Linked DNA regions of Homo sapiens: region 2 is linked to region 1. A link means that fine-mapping ties the variant in region 1 to the expression of a gene that starts in the linked region. Tissue or cell type: lung. Region 1 holds a variant in brackets; the other region holds the start of a gene. All regions are shown on one strand. Distances are from middle to middle.

What was found. PIP is the estimated chance that this variant, and not a neighbour inherited with it, causes the effect.
Region 2: SLC12A7 starts here. The variant in region 1 is fine-mapped to the expression of SLC12A7 in lung (TOPMed, PIP 0.93).

Annotation. Positions count from the first base shown.
Region 1 is chr5:1,138,108-1,146,282 of GRCh38, forward strand. It overlaps a transcript of SLC12A7 not described here. Among named protein-coding and RNA genes, the nearest start is that of SLC12A7, 30 kb to the left of the region's middle. RefSeq lists an enhancer at 2,387-3,230. The variant A/G (reference allele first, on the strand shown) is at 3,166.
Region 2 is chr5:1,107,377-1,115,551 of GRCh38, forward strand. It overlaps SLC12A7 (solute carrier family 12 member 7), which reads right to left and starts at 4,687. Exons shown (of 24, transcript NM_006598.3): 1 at 4,492-4,687. The coding sequence starts at 4,615.

The sequences.
Region 1 (8,175 bases):
CCCAGATCTTTGCAGTGTTACAGCTCTTAAACGTGGCACGGACCCAAAGAGTGAGCAGCAGCAAGATTTATTGCAAAAGGGGAAAAGCGGAAAAAAACACAAACCTTCCACATCATTGAAATGAACCCCAGGGCACCACCCACTGCCGGCGGGGTGGGGCAGGGCAGGGCGGCTTTTATTCCCTTATTTGACCCCACCCACATCCTGCTGATTGGTCCATTTTACAGAACACTGATTGGTTCATTTTACAGAGTGCTGATTGCTCCATTTTTACAGAGTGCTGATTGGTGCATTTACAAACCTTTAGCTACACACAGAGCTGCTCATTGGTGTGTTTACAATCCTTTAGCTAGACAGAAAAGTTCTACAAGTCCCCACCCTACCCAGAGGCCCAGCGGGCTTCACCTCTCAACCTCATAGGGCCTCCTCCTCTGTGTGCCTCTCTCCTCGTCTGTTTCTGATTTGCCAGTGGGCTTAGAGCCCGCTCACATAAACTGGGGCGACTTCAGCTGGAGATCTTTACCCCACATGCAAAGATTCTTTTCCAAATAAGGTCATATTCTCGGGTTCCAGGAATCAGGACATAGATGTAGCTCTTTGGAGGCCACCGTTTAGTTTACTACAAACCTTGAAACCAAAACAGGATCAAGGTCCAAACTTAGAAGGACTTGGGCTCCAGAGAGAGGCCCAGGAAGCTAAGCCCCACTGCCCGACACAGCCCTGTGTGCACAGTGGGAGCCCCAGGGTGTCTGTTCAACTGCAACACACAGCTTTCTACCAGGTCCTTAACACATGCTGGGTCCTAACATGTGCCCTGAGGTGAGCCGGGGATACTCGACTCCAGGGCACTGGCCAGAAGCCTTGGACCTGCACCCACCACCCAGGCCTCTGAAAGGAGAGCAAGCTGAAGTCTTGACTTTGAAACAGCTGCAGGGGTCGCCCCTCACCCAAGCTTGGGGTGGGGGGGGGGCTCTGGGCGGCAGCAGGTGCACTTTGGGAGCCTCCGATGGTCCCCACAGCTGGGCTCCCTCCTCATCCCCATGGGCGTAGCCCACCAGGTGGCTGCTGAGTCCTCATGGTCCGTAGGCAAGAGGAAGGGGGAAAGTGTGAGCCCTTGGCCTCCACGGCAGCCGGCTGGGATCCTGGCGGGGGACCCTCGCTGGTAACAGCATCTCCCCAGGACGTGCGGCCCCAGTGCCTGCACCCAAGCCCAGCCCTGGTGGGGAGCAGCCCCTGGAAGGCAGGAACCACTCCAGGCAAATGCAGCTGGTGCTCAGCTACATCCTCACGAGGGCCCTGGGCCCCAAACCAAGAGGCGGCTCAGCCTGACAGATGCGGTTCTGGGAGCTGGGGCGGTTGACACTGCCTGGGCCTTGCCGGCTTGGCCTTCTCTGAGGGGTGGTGTCCACACAGCAGCAATGGTGCCACATGCCGGAACCTGGAACCGAGGTTGCCTCGAGAACTGTTTGGGCAGTGGCCCTAGCGGGTGTGGGTGCCGGGAAACAGGAGGCAGAGTGGCCCCCATGTTCCTCTGTAGGCGTCCGCACAGCCTGCCTTCCCCGAGTGCACACGGCGAGCTTGCTTGACCCTGGGGTGGCCACGGCCCACTTTTGTGACCCACGTCCCTCCTCCCGGCAGGCCCCGTGTCTTTGGGGAAGGTGAGTAATTCTGAATCTGGTTCCCGAGCCCCACTTCCCAGTCTAGGGCCACTACGTCCCCACGGTTCTGGGACACTTGCTGAGACAAAGGCAGATTTTGTGAGTCAAAAGGGACTTTCCACATCTCCAAACGGCGTTTCCGGATGCATGGGCCTCAGGGCTCTGATCCCAAGAAGTGCCAAGAAGACCTCTGTGGTCACAGATGCGGACCAGGCCGGGACATGCTGGAAGGTGTCAGGACACGCCCGGCCTGCACCTCTGTCTCCCAGAGCATCCCAGGTCTCAGGGCATCAAACGCTCCGAGGTCGGTGACCAGGCACCACCGCCTTGGCCTCAACCAGCACCCCAGAGGCGCCGTCCTGCCCTCAGAAGGCCCCCCAGAAACGCTGTTTCCCATCGCTGGCTGGCTGTCTCGTACCAGCCGCTGCAGCCCCGGCCCACCTGCATGCAGGGAGCAGGGCCCCATGGGAACCCAGGCAGATCCCCCTCCTGAGAAAGGTGGCCCTGCCCCAGCCAGCACATCCCAGGCGATGAGGCATGTGATCCCCATGGCCCCTCGGGTGAATCCTGACCGCCAATCTGCACACACAGCCACACCTGCGTCTCCATCTCCCTCGGTTCTGTTCCCCCCCACCGGGTCTGGAAGACACTGGTAAGCAGGGGAGGAGGAAACAGGTGCAGCTCCAGCGAGGCGGTGCTCCCTGCTGGTGAGTGGGTGCCCCCTGCTGGTGAGGGGGGGTGCTCCCTGCTGGCTTCCCCTCCCCACAGCTGTCCCTGGAGGGAGGCGTCATTCTGTAAACAGGGAGATGGGGTTCAGGACGGTGCCAGCATGCCCAGCAATCCCGGAGTTCCCCGTGCTCAGGAACTCGCACCGCTGGCTCCACGCTCTCTACTCCAGTGGGACAAGAAAGCTCTGCTCACCAGGCAACGAGAGGCGCAAGGGCGGAGCCCAGGGCCCCGGGGAGGGCTCAGGTGGCTGGCGGAGGGGGTGCAGGGAAGGGAGATTCACCCAGGAGGGCCATTGACAAGCACTGGCTGGGGAGGGATGTGGTCACTGCACCGGCATGACAGCTCGGAGTAGCTTCTAGGTGACCACGCCATGGGAGAATGTTCTGAGGGGAACCCCTTGGGAGGCTCAGCATGAGGCAGAGCCGTTGGGGGCTGCAGCCAAGGTGGGCAAGCTGGGCCTGGGCCAGTTCAGAGCAGCCAGGCTGAGGGGGAGGGTGGACACGGGACGTTTATACCAATACGCTCGGGCCGCTGTGGAAATGAGTGCAGCCAGGCTGTGCACACCACAGACACGTCTCGAAGCCTCGGGCCTGAAGTCCCAGGTCAGTGTGTGGCTGGGCTGCTCCCCTGAGCTGTAGGCGGGCACCGGTTCCGGCCTCTTCTTGGCTTGCAGGCCCCAGCTTCTCCCTGTGTCTCTGTATCGTCCCTGCTCTGTGAGTGTCTATTTCTGTGTCCAAATTCCCCCTTTTAATAAGGACACCCGTTATATTGAATTAGG[A/G]TGCACCCCTGTGAGCTGTCACTTGATGACCTCTGCAAACAGCTCCCTCCCAATACCATCACATTCTCAAGTGCTAGGCAGTAGGACCCCCAGTCCTCTCCCAGTCCTAATGGAGAGATGTCACTGAGCCTGTAACTTGGCTGTCCCAGCCGTCCCTGCTGCCACGGGCACCACAGCCGCCATGGGCACCAGAGCCGCCACGGGCACCACAGCTGTCCCTGCCTCCCTCTCTGTGCTCTCCCCTGGCTTGTTTTCTGTATCTCCTGGGATGGAGGCTCCCTGGGGACTGTCTTCCCCACTGTGTCCTCAGCACCCAGACCTCACTGGGACAGCAGCCACTAAGCTTGTGTGGTCACTGAAGTTTATATTTAAGTTAAAATTTTTTTTAAAAAATGAAGAATCCAGGTCCTCAGCCACAGCAGCTACAGCTCAAGTGCCGATAGCCACATGTGGCCGGTGGCTGCTGCATAGGACAGCGTGGACAAGGAATAACTCCGTTGGTGCAGAGAGGCCACTGGACACTCAGGCAGAGACAAGAGGGTTCGCCGGGACAGATCAACAGATGAACAAATTCAGAACAAAATGCTTAGTGAGGGAGAAGTGAACTTTCATTTTGCCCAAGTCACCATTATCATGGGTGCTGCTGGCAGGATCAGACCTGGTCATGTGGAGTCTGAAGTGCTCCCAGCCACCAACTGTGGCTGTTGCTTAGAGATACCCCTCTTCCCTGCAGCCCTGCAGGACTTCCCGGGGCTTCCTGGCCTCCACCTTTGCTTCTGGTGCTAGAGGCGGGGCAGGTGGCGTCAGGGTGGCCACTCCCCTCCCCAGAGCTGCACTGGGCCGCAGTCAGTTCACCCGGCCACCCCTGGCAGCATCTCTGGGCCCCAGACAGGGCCCCTCCATACAGAGCCCAGACGCTCCACAGGGCAGGGGCAGCCCAGCCCTATAAGCCCTGGTGCCCCCATAATCAGGAGGAAGAAAACCTCCCCCGTCTCCTGTCCCCTCTCTCCCCTCTCCCCTCCCCCCTCGCCCCTCCCGTCTCCCCTCTCCCCTCTCTCCTCTCCCCTCTCCCCTCTTCCCTCTCCCCTCTCCCCTCCACCCTCTCCTGTCTCCCCTCTCCCTTCTCCCCTTTCCCCTCTCCCCTCCTCACTCTCTCATCTTCGCTGTCCCCTCCCCTCTCTGCCCTCCACTCCCCCCTCCCCTCCCCCTCCCCTTTCCCCTCCCCACTCCCCTCTCTCCCCTCTCCCCTCTCTTCCCTGTTCTCTGCTTCTCTGTGTGTGTCTCTCTCTCTGTCTCTCTTTCTGTCTCTGTCCATCTGTCTCTGTCTGTTTTTCTGTCTCTGTGTCTCTGTCTCTCGCTGTCTCTGTCTGGCTGTCTCTGTCTCCCTGTCTCTCTGTCTCTGTCTCTGTGTCTCTCTCTGTCCCCCTCCCCTCTTCCTGAGCCACTGCCCAGAACTCCAGGCAGGAGGTGCTCACGGCCCTCCCCACATCTTCCCCCTAGAATACCCGTGACCATCAGCTGCCCCCCCCATACACACCCCTCCCCTCCAATCCCAAACTCACTCAGAGCCCCTGTTCTTTGGGCAACGTGCTCAGAACTCAGGGGAGGTAAGGGGGAGTAGGTCAGCAGAAGAGGAAATGGACTTTCCTGGCCCATTCTCCATCCTGGGAGGGCACTGGGCCCTGGGCCCCAGGCCCCGGGCCCCGGTATTCATGGTAACGGGGGCTGAGAGGCGGCCAAAGAAGGCTTGTTCCCGTGCCGGGCACCACAGAGCTTACGGCTCCATCTGTGACACGGGCCTTCCTTCCCTGAGGGCCCCAACACAGCCTCCTGGGCAACATGCCCCTCCATCCGCAGGGTCAGAAGCCGCAGCTCAAGGATCACCTGCGGAAGGTGGCATTTCCCAAGACCGGAGCTTCCCGACATCCCGCCACCTCCCGCAGCGCTGGTGCCAGTCCTGTCGGATAAGGGGCAAGTGTAAGACCGGCCTCATCAGCTCCAGCAATTGTAACAAAGCGCCATGGGCGGGGGCTTCAACACTAGAAATTGTTCCCTCGCAGCCTGGGGGCTGGAAGTCCCAGACCAAGGGGCTGCTGGGCGGTTTCTCCCAAGGCCTATTCATGGCCCGCAGACGGTGGCTTCTCCTGTGTCCTCCCACGGCCGCTCCTCTGCACACACGCATCCCTGGTGTCGCTTTCTCTTCTTACAAGGACACGTCCTATTGGGTCAGGGCCTTCCTCACAACCTCATTTAACCTTAAGTCCCTCCCTCAAGGTCCTAGCTCCAGATACAGTCCCGTTGGGGCTGGGCCTCAGCTGCGAATCTGGGGGCACGACTCAGTCGGCAGCTGTCTGTGTCCTGCATGCGCCTCCACTGACCTTCCCAGGGTTCTCCCTGTGTCCTGGTGCTGCTTCTTCACCCAGAGCGCTGCCACCCACTGCTGAGCTTCAGACATGTGACCTGCCCAGTCCCCTCTGCAAGCCCTGCACCTTCCTCAGTACCAACCAGCAAACCCGTGGCTGCACCGGGGCCAGCAGACACTCTCGGGCAGAGTGCTGGGCACCCTGGCCTCCTGGGCACCCTGGCGCTTGGCACCCTGGCCTCCTGGGCACCCTGGCGCTGGGAAACCTGGCCTCCTGGGCACCCTGGCGCTGGGAAACCTGGCCTCCTGGGCACCCTGGCGCTGGGAAACCTGGCCTCTTGGGCACCCTGCCCTCCTACCCCTGGCTGGCTCGGGCGGCTGTCACCAGTGTGTTCTAAGACTGCAGCCCAGAACCAAGAAATAGGGAGGGGGCGAACAGCCCTGCAGGGAGGGGCACACCCGCCAACCTCAGAGAGGGGACCTGGACGCACCCACCACCCTCAGGGAGAGGACGTGGACGCACCCACCAACCTCAGGGAGGGGACCTGGACGCACCCGCCAACCTCAGGGAGGGGAAGTTGGCCGGCGCAGCGCCGGGTGGCGGGAGAGGATGGTGTCTGGGGCTTACGCCATGCCCAAGCTCCCACAAGGCAGGGGCCCACGTCCCGGGCTCCACGCCAGGGCCTTGCTCTGCCAGGGCAGCTCAGGGCAGCTCCGACAAGGAGTGGCCCCTTTGAACGAGATCCTGGAGAGTCAGGGTTTTCACTCCAGCTTTAAACCAGTTGCTCCCAGGCCGCCGCCACTGCCCCCACCCACCTGTTCTTGGTCCCAGCATCATCATGACAATTTGGGGGCAGGAATTCAACTGTGGAACGGGAGGAGCCCTCAGCTCCGGGTCACGCTGGGTGGAGGGCACGGTGAGGTCACGCTGGGTCATGGTGAGCTGGTGAGGCAGGCAGCCTGGTGGGCACCCGCCTTGAAAATGACCCCTCAAACCAGCGGACCGCACCACACTTTACAATTGAGTACAGCTATTTATCCATTAACACCTGTACCACTTCCAGACCAACAGATCACCAGGCTGCAGTGGGGACATGTGAGAAAATTACAGGCAAGGAAGCAAAGACTAGAACCAGGTGTGTCTCTGAGTTCCAGCCCTGCTGAAATGCCCGTCTGAATAAACAGGGGCCACTGCCATCCCGGCTGCGCATGCACAGGCCTCCGAGCGGCAGAAAGCAGGGATGACACCAATGTGGCTTTAAACCAGTGTTCAATTCCCATGGCTGATTCGGAACGTCCTGAGGCAAAACGTGAAGTTTACTGCATCCGAGGAAGGAAGTGCAGCACCCACAGCAGCAGCCAGCACCACTGGACCAACCGGGCCGGGGCTGGGGAAGGAGCATGTGCTGTCGGCACGGCCAGGCCGGGCCTGGAGGGCTGGAGAGAGCCTGCGTGGGACAGCAGCTGGAGGCCGCAGGGGGCCCAGGGATCACCCCTTCTTCAAAGGGAACCTGGCCGAGAACTCGGCCCTCACACTTGGGTGTGGGGTCTCTGGAGACAGGACAGTGAGTGGCCACAAGGGCCAGGCAGGGGCCGCTGCCAGTGGGCCTGGAAGACCAGCGAGGGCTCATGTCCATCACACGGTCTGTGCAGTAAATGATGGCCGGTTCCGCAGACCCCCTCCCTGTGGGGACACAGCTGCTGGGGTGGTCACCCCTCCCCCTAATTCCCAGCTGAGGTGCCCCTGCAGAAGCCCCGAGTGCCCAGCGGGGTAATTGCGGCCAGGTGCTTGCTCTTGGAGCACTGAGGAGCCATCGGAGGCTGCAGGCTGCCTAGCGGCCAGGCTTGCTGCCCCTTCCTGGAATCTGCCCACAGGAAGTCAGAGGCTGCCAGCCCCTTCACTGACCTTTCCAGGACCAGCCAGGAAGGGCTCACAAAGGATGTTATTTGAAACAGGAAGGTCCCTGGACAAAAATATCTCTTCCAAGAGGCCTGAAAGAGCACCTTGCAGAGAGTAATTTAGATTAAACAGGACCCCCTCCCTGGAGAGCCTGCCTAGGTGTGAATTGATTTAATCAAACTGGCCTCCTCTCAGAAAACTAGAGGCCAGGATCAAGCGCCTCTGTCCTCTGCAGAAGGAAGGGGCTGGGGGTGCGGGAGGGTTTAGTTTATCTCTAGGCCCCTACTGTCTGCTTGCATTTTCTTTTTGGTATTTTTTGTATTGTGATAAAATACACATAACATTTTACCATTTTTACCATTTTTGGGTGAGCAGTTCAGTGGCATTAAATGCAGTCACAATGCTGTAAAACCATCACCGCCATCCTTCTCCAGAACTTCCTTTGCAAAACTGCAGCTCTGCACCCATTAAACTGACTCCCATTCCCCTCCCCCAGCCCCTGGCAGTCCCCGTTCTGCCTCCGTCTCCCAGAATTTGACAACTCCAGGCTCTGCCTGCAACTGTTATTCTGCAGGATTGACCTTTCTGTGTCTGGCTGCCCCATCCCTCCTCATTCCCAAAGGCTCTCCCTGGAACCTGCTCCCAGCAGGAGGGGCCATTCCCTGGTCACCCACCTTCTTGAGGCTCCTCTGGGAGAGTCTCCAGGTCTGTGATGAGACCTCAGGGACCTGCCAGCAGGTGGGCTTTT
Region 2 (8,175 bases), 31 kb before region 1:
CCAGGGAGCTGTGTAGGACGTGGCCCCACGTCCAAAGGGCAGAGGCCCTGACAGAGGTGGCCTCACTCCACGGCCCACTCACTGCCGGGCATGAGGGGAGGACAGCCCCCAACTCACCCTCAGGGTCCCTCAGGTGCCTCTGCTTGACTCCAGCCACCACCTGGCAAGGTCTCCGACATTCACCGATCCCCAGCAAACCTGTGTGACTTCGGCCCCGACCAGCCGCCCTGCACCCAGGCCTGAGCACCTGGCCCTCCCCTTGGCACCACCTTCCCGACAGCCATCCAGACCACGGGAGAGGCACTGAGAAAGCCACGCACTCTAAGAAGGGGATCTGGTGTCCAACGCTAGACAGAAAACCACCGTGGAATCCGTTTGGCCTCGCCCACTCAGAGAAGCCTGGGGAGCTTTGCAGAAGAGGAAACCATGAACCTGAGTCCACGAGGCAAAGGTCTCCTCATATGATCAGAGGCCCAGGAGCAGGTTCAGACCTGAACACGAGGCCACACCAGGAGAGGGAGCCCCTCACCACTCACTGATGGGCCTAGACCAGGGGGAGGGAACGGATACCCAACACCCAACACCGCGTGACCCTCTGCTGTGGAGGAAGCCCCAGCCCCTCTCTACCTGCCACAGCATACAAACACACACATACACACACACACGTGAGCATGCCCACAGCACACAGCTGTGCAAGAGCACAGTACACATGTATGCACACGTGTGTACATATATGTGCACATATACACAGTGCAAGCACATGGCTCACACGTGGATACACCTGCACGCTCACAAGGCACATAGGTGCCCGCACACATGGACCCGGCCAGCTGACCTAAAGCACCATGCTTTACCGCATGCCTGCTAAGGAGAGCCTCTTGCCGGGAGACAGCCTGGGAGTATGTCAGGCGCAGGAGGAAGCACAGGCCCCGGCCTGGATGCCCAGCAGCCACGGCGTTCCTGTGTATCTTGTTTCCTTTGGTTTTAAAAAGGGAACTCGATACACAAAATGCATGTCTTGTAGCCTCCCTGCCTGCTCACCACATACCCATGACCTTCCGTTCCCGCAACGCAGTGCCCAGCTGCTGCAGGGGCTCCCGGGCACAGCCGCGGGGTCAACAGCCTGCCTGTCCCTCCTGCTCCGACTGCCTCCCATGTCCGTGTCGGGAACGCCCTCCTGAAATCTGGGCACAACGAGAGCTCTCTGTCCCTACTCGGCAGGACAGAACCTGGACGCTCTGTGTGTGGTCCCCCTATCTAATGCGTGATCCCCCAAGTCCCTGCATCCCCAAAGGGGACCCCAGATCAGCACGACCGGCGTGCACCGTCTCGCCATTCCCAAGGGCAGTGCAGAGCATGGCACCCAGCACCCGACAGGCGAGGACGGCCCAGGACAAAGCGGCAGCTCTAGCTGTCCTCAGATTTTGGGAGGGGGCTCCCAACACGGACACGGTAGGTAGTTGGAGCAGGAGGGACGGGCAGGCCACTGACCACGCAACCGGGCCTCTGTCAGCGGCCAGGGGCAGAGGGAGGCAGGACCGCCCCTGGACAACCGACACGAGCTCAGCCACAGTGGAAAATCTCAGAAACGGAACCCAAAGAGGGAAGTGGCGCCCAAGCCAGGAAGAAGCTCCCGGCAAACCTGGGAGAGCCCCAGCTGAGGGTGGGAGACCTGGGGGTACAAGGCAGGACCCACCCTCTCCCAGCCCAGGGAGCCCCAGACGAGTGGAAGTCCCTCCTAGACAGTGGGTGGCCAGGGCCTGTGGGACCTTGACAGAGGCTCTGCACGCTGCACCTTCCAGACAGGCCGGGGCACTGGCCAGCCCTCCTTTCCCACCCCTCCCAGGGTCTCCGAGGCCTCTGGACGCACCCCTACAACCTGGGAAGGAGTGAGTCTACCCTGATGTGGTCACGGAGGAAGGGTGGGCTCCCCCAAGTCAGTTACAAAACCCACTCTACCCTGAAGTCGGACGAGACGCAGCCGGCCCCCAGCAGTGTCCTCCCACCTCCTACTCTCAAAAAACCACCCCACTGAGAAACTGAGGGTTAACACGTCCTTCTCATTTCAAGACGAGGTATTTCACATAAGAATAAAAGCTCCGTCCCAAGAAGTGCTGAGGGCACAGTGCCCATCCCCGGGACAGGACGCCTCCCGCAGAGGCTCCACCAGAAGCAGCAGGGAAGCTGCAGGGGTCGGGGACAGAAGGCCCCTGGAGCCAGGCTGGGCAGACGCGGCCTTGCTGGGCTCTGGGTCGAGCCAGGCAGCCCGGGCAGCAGCATCTACCCCTCTTTCCCCAGAACCCCCCAACCCAGGCTGGGGACACCAAGGCCCCTGCTCCTCAAGTTGGGGTGGCTCAGGACGCCCTCTCCACGCCCACCTGGCAGTGCCTAGGATCAGCCCACCAGGCCCCCCAAACTTGCTTCGCCGTCACCCAGGCGCCAGCCCAGAAGCTCCAGTACCTCCACAGACCGTTCAGGGGAACGGCAATGGAGTCAGGAAGAGCTTGGGTGCTGGTAACTCTGTGGCCGGACAGTTTTGGACCTGGCCTGTGACCTTGTGGTGTGGACCCCACACAGAAGGCCTTTGGGAGGGGCTCCGGCTTCTGCAGGACCCCCGCCCCCAACCACCACCAAAAAGCAAAGCCTGTGCCTCCTTCCCCAGGCTCCGTGCCCATCACGGGACTCCTCGCCGCACCTCTGTGGGCTGAAGATCAGGATGTGATCAAGTGGATTCCGAAGGGCAGCTGCGTGCCCGTTACAGCCTGGCAGTGGCTGGGCACCGGGCCCTTTCTGTGGAAGTAGGAAGCGGGTCCAGCACAAAAGCGCCAGGTGCAAGTTCTCTGCCAGTTCGGAGAAATCTCCCAAGTTCAGCTCACACCACAGGGCCACCCTCAAAAGTGTCCAGAAGCCCACACCTGGCCCATGCCCTCCCGTTCTCAATTTCATGAAGGCCAGGGAGCCTCCTGACACGCCCGTAGCAGGACCTGAGTGCGCGGGCAGCGACATGGGCAGCGCTCAGCCAGGGCCACTTCCTGCTGGGCAGACACAGGCCCAGGGCACTGCTCAACAGCCTTGAGAGTAGAAGAGACAAGAAAACGAACAAGCACAAAATTCTCTCTGGCTTAAAAGCAAATGACACTTACAGTCTAAAGACAAAAGTGAACCTGATCAGCCTTGAGAAGGGGCCGGCCAGACAAGAAGAGGCTCCTTCTGAGTGCGTTCCGGGGGCGTTGCTACAAAGCTCACACAGAAAGACCACGCCAGGGCCCACACTCCTTGGTGCTTCCTGCCTCCACGGTGGTGACTGGAGAGAAGGGGCTTGGACTCACGGACCCTGCTTAGTTAGCACTTCACCTGGTGTTGAGCCTGGCGCCCCGCCTGACCACTTCCAAGATCTGGGCTGGCCTCTGTGCAGAGGAAGCTGAGACCACTCTTCGCCCGCCACGGGGACCCTGATGACGCACCCCAGGCCACCAGGCCACTGCCTTCACGGTGGGTCCCCACCCGTGTCTCCGGGTTCCTAAACTGCCTGGAGGGGATGTCTGGCCTTTCCTGCCCGGGATGGTGGGTTAGGAAGGATCTGGGGTCTGGCACCGGACTTGTCCCTGGACAGACCTCACCTTCCTTCCACTGCCAGGGAGCAGGGAGGCTGCCACCCACTGCATGAGACCCGGGCACATGCGGGCACTGCCAGCACGCGGGGTGGGGGCTGGACTGAGTCCGGACACCTTCTCAGAGACTCCGGATGGAAGGGCCTAAGAGCCTCCGGTTTCTAGAGGGGGCTGAGATCCGGGGAGTAACTGGGATTTGGAGCCAGGATGGAGGGAACAGGGCTGGGGGATTCTCTCCCCAGCCCCGTCCCCACCCCCTAGAGAAAGTGAAAGTGCTAGAAACCTCCAGATTCCCGGAACGGGGGACGGGAACACGGAGGACGCGGCCTGAGCAAGGCCCCGGTGGCTGCCCCCTCCCCAGCCAGGGCGCAGTCCTTCCTGTTCCGCCTCTGGGGGGTGGGCGGCTCCTCCAGGGTCAGGCGGGGGCAGGACGGGCCGGCCCGGGCTAGTGTTACCGGACGGCCGCGGCGCAGGGGAAGGGAGAGCGCGGGGGACGCAGGACGCCCCGGCTCCCGAACCGCCCGGGTCTCCACCGCCACCCCTGTCCCACTAGGGACCACCCAGGGGCCCGGGCTCCCTCCGGAGGCGCGCTCCAGCCCCTCCCCGTTTCCATGGCTACCAGCAGCGGCGTCCACACCTCTGCCCCCGGTCCCACCCGAGCTGACCGTACCGGGAGCCCTGGCAGGGCCCCTCGCCCCCTAGCGCTGCCACTAACGTGGGGTGGGGGCCCTCGTGGGGGACCGAGAACAGGCGGTGGGGGCGCGGGAAGGGGCGCCTCCTGTACCCCCGGCCCCGCCGCCCGCCTCCGCTCCCGGATGCCGGGCCCAGACCCGCGCTCGGGGCGCTCGGCCTTTGTCCGGCCAGGTGCGGCCGCGCTCACCCGGGCTGGGGCGCTCGGGCTCGGGGCCCTCGGGGGTGCCCGGAGCCTCCGTCCGCTCGGCAGTCTCGTCCCCGCCGCCGTCGGCGTGAGCCTCCACGGGCACCACGGTGAAGTTGGTGGGCATGGCCGCCTGCAGCCGACAGTCCCCGTCCCGGCCCGGCCCGCGCTGCGCCGCTCCCGCCGACGCCACGGGACTTGGAGGCAGGGGCGGGGTCCGACCGAGCCGCCCCGCCCCGCCCGGGCCACGTGACTTCACCTGCTTGCCCCGCGGCCCCACGAAAAGTTGGCCCGCGGCGACTTCCTGCAGGGACCCCAACCCAGGCTGCGTCTGTCTGACCGCCGCGACCCGGGACGCGGGGCTTTCGCTGCCTGCGCTCCCGACCATCGCAGAGCCCGCGAATCCCCGCTCAGTCTCCTGCACCCCCTCCTGCTCCAGCCCCCTGCCCCTCCTGCTGGAACTCCCCGCCCTCCCCGCCCTCCCCGGCCCCCTCCCCGCCTCCCCTCTTGTCCCCTTCCCCGACCCCCCACTCCTGCTCCAGCCCCCTGCCCCTCCTGCACGCCCTTCTGCTGGAACCCCTCACCCCTCCTGCACCCCCCCACCCTTCCTGCACCCCCTCCTGCTGGGCCCCCCTGCCCCTATGAACCCCCTCCTGCTGGAACCCCTGCCCTTTCTGCACCCCCTCCTGCTGGGCCCCTCCTCCTTCTGCGCCCCCTCCCGCACCCCCTCCTGTTTGCCCCCCATTTCCTGCTCCAGCCCCCTACCCCTCCTTCTTCCCCCTCCTGTTCCCCCCTGCCATCCTCCAGCACCCACCTCCCACACAGTCCGCCCACCCACTCCAGGCTGTCAACACCCGCTCAGACCCTGGGCTCCTAGCCTGGCTCCTGGCTAGCCCAACCTGGCTGCAAAGGCAACTCCAGTGGAAGGAGCCTTGGATAGCCTGGGGGTGGGGTACTCCGGAGCTTGGTCCAGCTCCAGTTTAGGGACCTAACCCAGTAGAGGGAGTCCCCCCCCCCACCCATGACAAATACCACCCACGAAGACCCCAGTCTCCTCCACACCTGCCCCAGGAGTGCCCCGCGGCCCCTGCCCTAGAACCCTCCCTTCCCTCCTTGGGAAATGTTCCAGAAGCTCACAGGGTGATGCAGGGAAGGTGGAGTTCCAGAACCCACCAGGCAGACACCAGGATACCACCGGCCAGCACCTGGCACATTTCTCAACAAATGACTCATGAAAAACGGAACAATCAGATGTCCGTCAATGGGGAATTGGGCTAAAATGCTATGGCACACAGGTGCAATGAGTCAGCCTTTATTCCTAATCACCCACAACTGCTGTACGACAACAAAGCAGAAACACAGGTGGTGTGGGCAAACACGGCCACAGCCTCTTGTCACGTGGAAAATGGGTATGGCCTGGCCATGTTTTAGCCGCTTGCCTGTCTAATCCTAAAAGGCAGCTGGAGGGGAGTGATGGCCTCCGGGCTGTGGGATCACCGGGCTCTGTGGGTTCAAGGAACGCAAGCCCAACCTCTCCAGCCATTTCCAGTAAAGCCAGTCATGCCCTGGGGTGGCCTAGGGTTCTACCCCTTTGCCCCATGGACTCTTCTGGGCAGAAGCTGTAGGCCTGGGACCCTCCTGGAACGTCGCCCATCCAGCACCAGCCCTTGCAGAGGTGGGGGTTCCTCTGGCCTGGGTGTCTGGAGCTGTGCCTGCTCCACACTCTCACCCCACCTCCCACCAAAGGGAGCTCAGGGCTGTGGATGGTGCTAGGTCAGCTGCCTCCCTGGGTCAGTGGGTTGGAAGGTAGGAAACCATCACCTCCCCAGAAGATAAAATAGTTCCCAGGCATCCTTATGAGGAGGGCTGGCTTTGCTAAAAAGATCCAGGGGGTGGGAACAGAAGTGCCCAATGGGGTCAATTATAGGGTTCACACTTAGGGTGCTGGGTAAACCCTCTCCTCAGTCACCCCAGCAGGGGCTTCTGTACATTCAACCCTGGTTGCCACCCAGCGCTATTCCCGAGGGTTGGACAGAGCTCAGGGTGGGCACGAGGCCTTCCCAAGTGATGCCAGCAGGAGCAACAGATGTGCAGGGCTCCCGTCGCACATCCAAGCTCTGCTTCACACCCCAGGACCCCAGGGCCGGCTGCCCGCCATGTGCTGGCTGTGGACCTTCAGAGGAGCTGGTTTGGAGGGTCTGTGGCCAGGGCCAGCTCCCGGACTCAGGACTCATCAGCTTCATTTTACAGAGGAGGAAACTGAGGCCCAGGAGTTTAGGGTCCTGTGGCAGCTCCGAGGGTGGTCTTCTCTGTGATTACAAAATCTTGACTAGGACCAGGGGCCATGGCTGAAGCACCTGGGTGGGTGCCCAGCCCTGCCAGGCAGAAGGCAGGTGGCTTCTCTTGTTTAAATCTTAGATCTTACTTGTGGGAGACCTCGGGTGGGGGGTGAGGTCTGCTGCCTTTTGCATTCTAATCAGGTGAGTCACGACAGGGATCAGCACCCTGTAAGCACCTGCGGGTCAAGACAGAGACCCTTGCCGGAGCCCAGAAGCCGCTGCAGGCCCCTCCCATCCCATCAGTAGCCCATCCCTAGGGGTCTGGTGGCCCCTCCCTTCGCTCTGTGGGTTTCCGTGTCCACGTATATCCTCCCACACGGCAGCCTGGGGTTAAATGTGCGTTGTGTGACTTTCAGTGCTCTCTTCCTACCCACCTCCATCCCTCTGTCCTTTTCTGTACCCGGCACCTGTTGTAGGAAGTGGCCCTCGGACACGTGGAGGTACCCGAGGCCTGGGTTGGAGCTGCATCTTTCGGTGCAGGCCTCTGCGTCTCCTGGAAGTGGGCACCTGGAGCCAGGGGACTGCTGGGATCCGGGTCCAGTCCCCTGGCAAGGCCGGGGGCTCGCAGAGGGAGCCACGCACTGTCTGGTGGTAGCTCCTCCGTCCGCAGTCGTTGGTGCTTGATGTCTGAATCGACAGATTCATGGAGCAAAATGGTGATTTTCCAGTGCGTGGTGGCTTCGTCATGAATTCACTGGAGGGAGAGGCTCATCTTGTCCGTCTGGCCATCTGGATAATGGTGCCCACAGGAAAGGCAGGGCAAGGGTGCCTCTCCCTCATTTGTCAGTTTCCACAACGGTGAATTGGTTCCCGACAATCTCCCAAGTATATTTGTACATCGCTGATGAAACACATTGGTGGGTCTCAGTCGATCACCATTAGTGCCCTTTCCAAGCATCGGTGTCCAGCTTTGCCCAGGGGGCCTCTTCAAATGCAATCTCGCATCCTTATGATGTGAGCCTGGTCATCTGCGATGGCCTCTTGGCCGTGTGCAGGGCACAGCCAGGGGAACCCTGGGATTTAGTGCGAAAGTGTAGCCGATGGTGGTTACATTCTGTGTGTAGATTCTCGAAACAGTCCCTGCTGCCTGCCACCCTGGGGTGGAGTTTCTAATGGATTAGGACGGACACCCAATGCCAGCTTCCAAGCCAGGAGGCCGCTCGTGCCCACGGCTTGGAATCAGGGCTGTGGCCTGGGAGGGCTCTCACCAGACGCAGGCTGCCTCCAGGTATCTGTGTGCCTCTGCCCACGGAGCTTCTCCCCAGGTCCGCGGGTCCCCCCAGTCCACTTCTGCTTTCCTGTTAGGGTGGGGGGCTCATCTCCTGGTGCGCCATCTGCATCCTTCTGG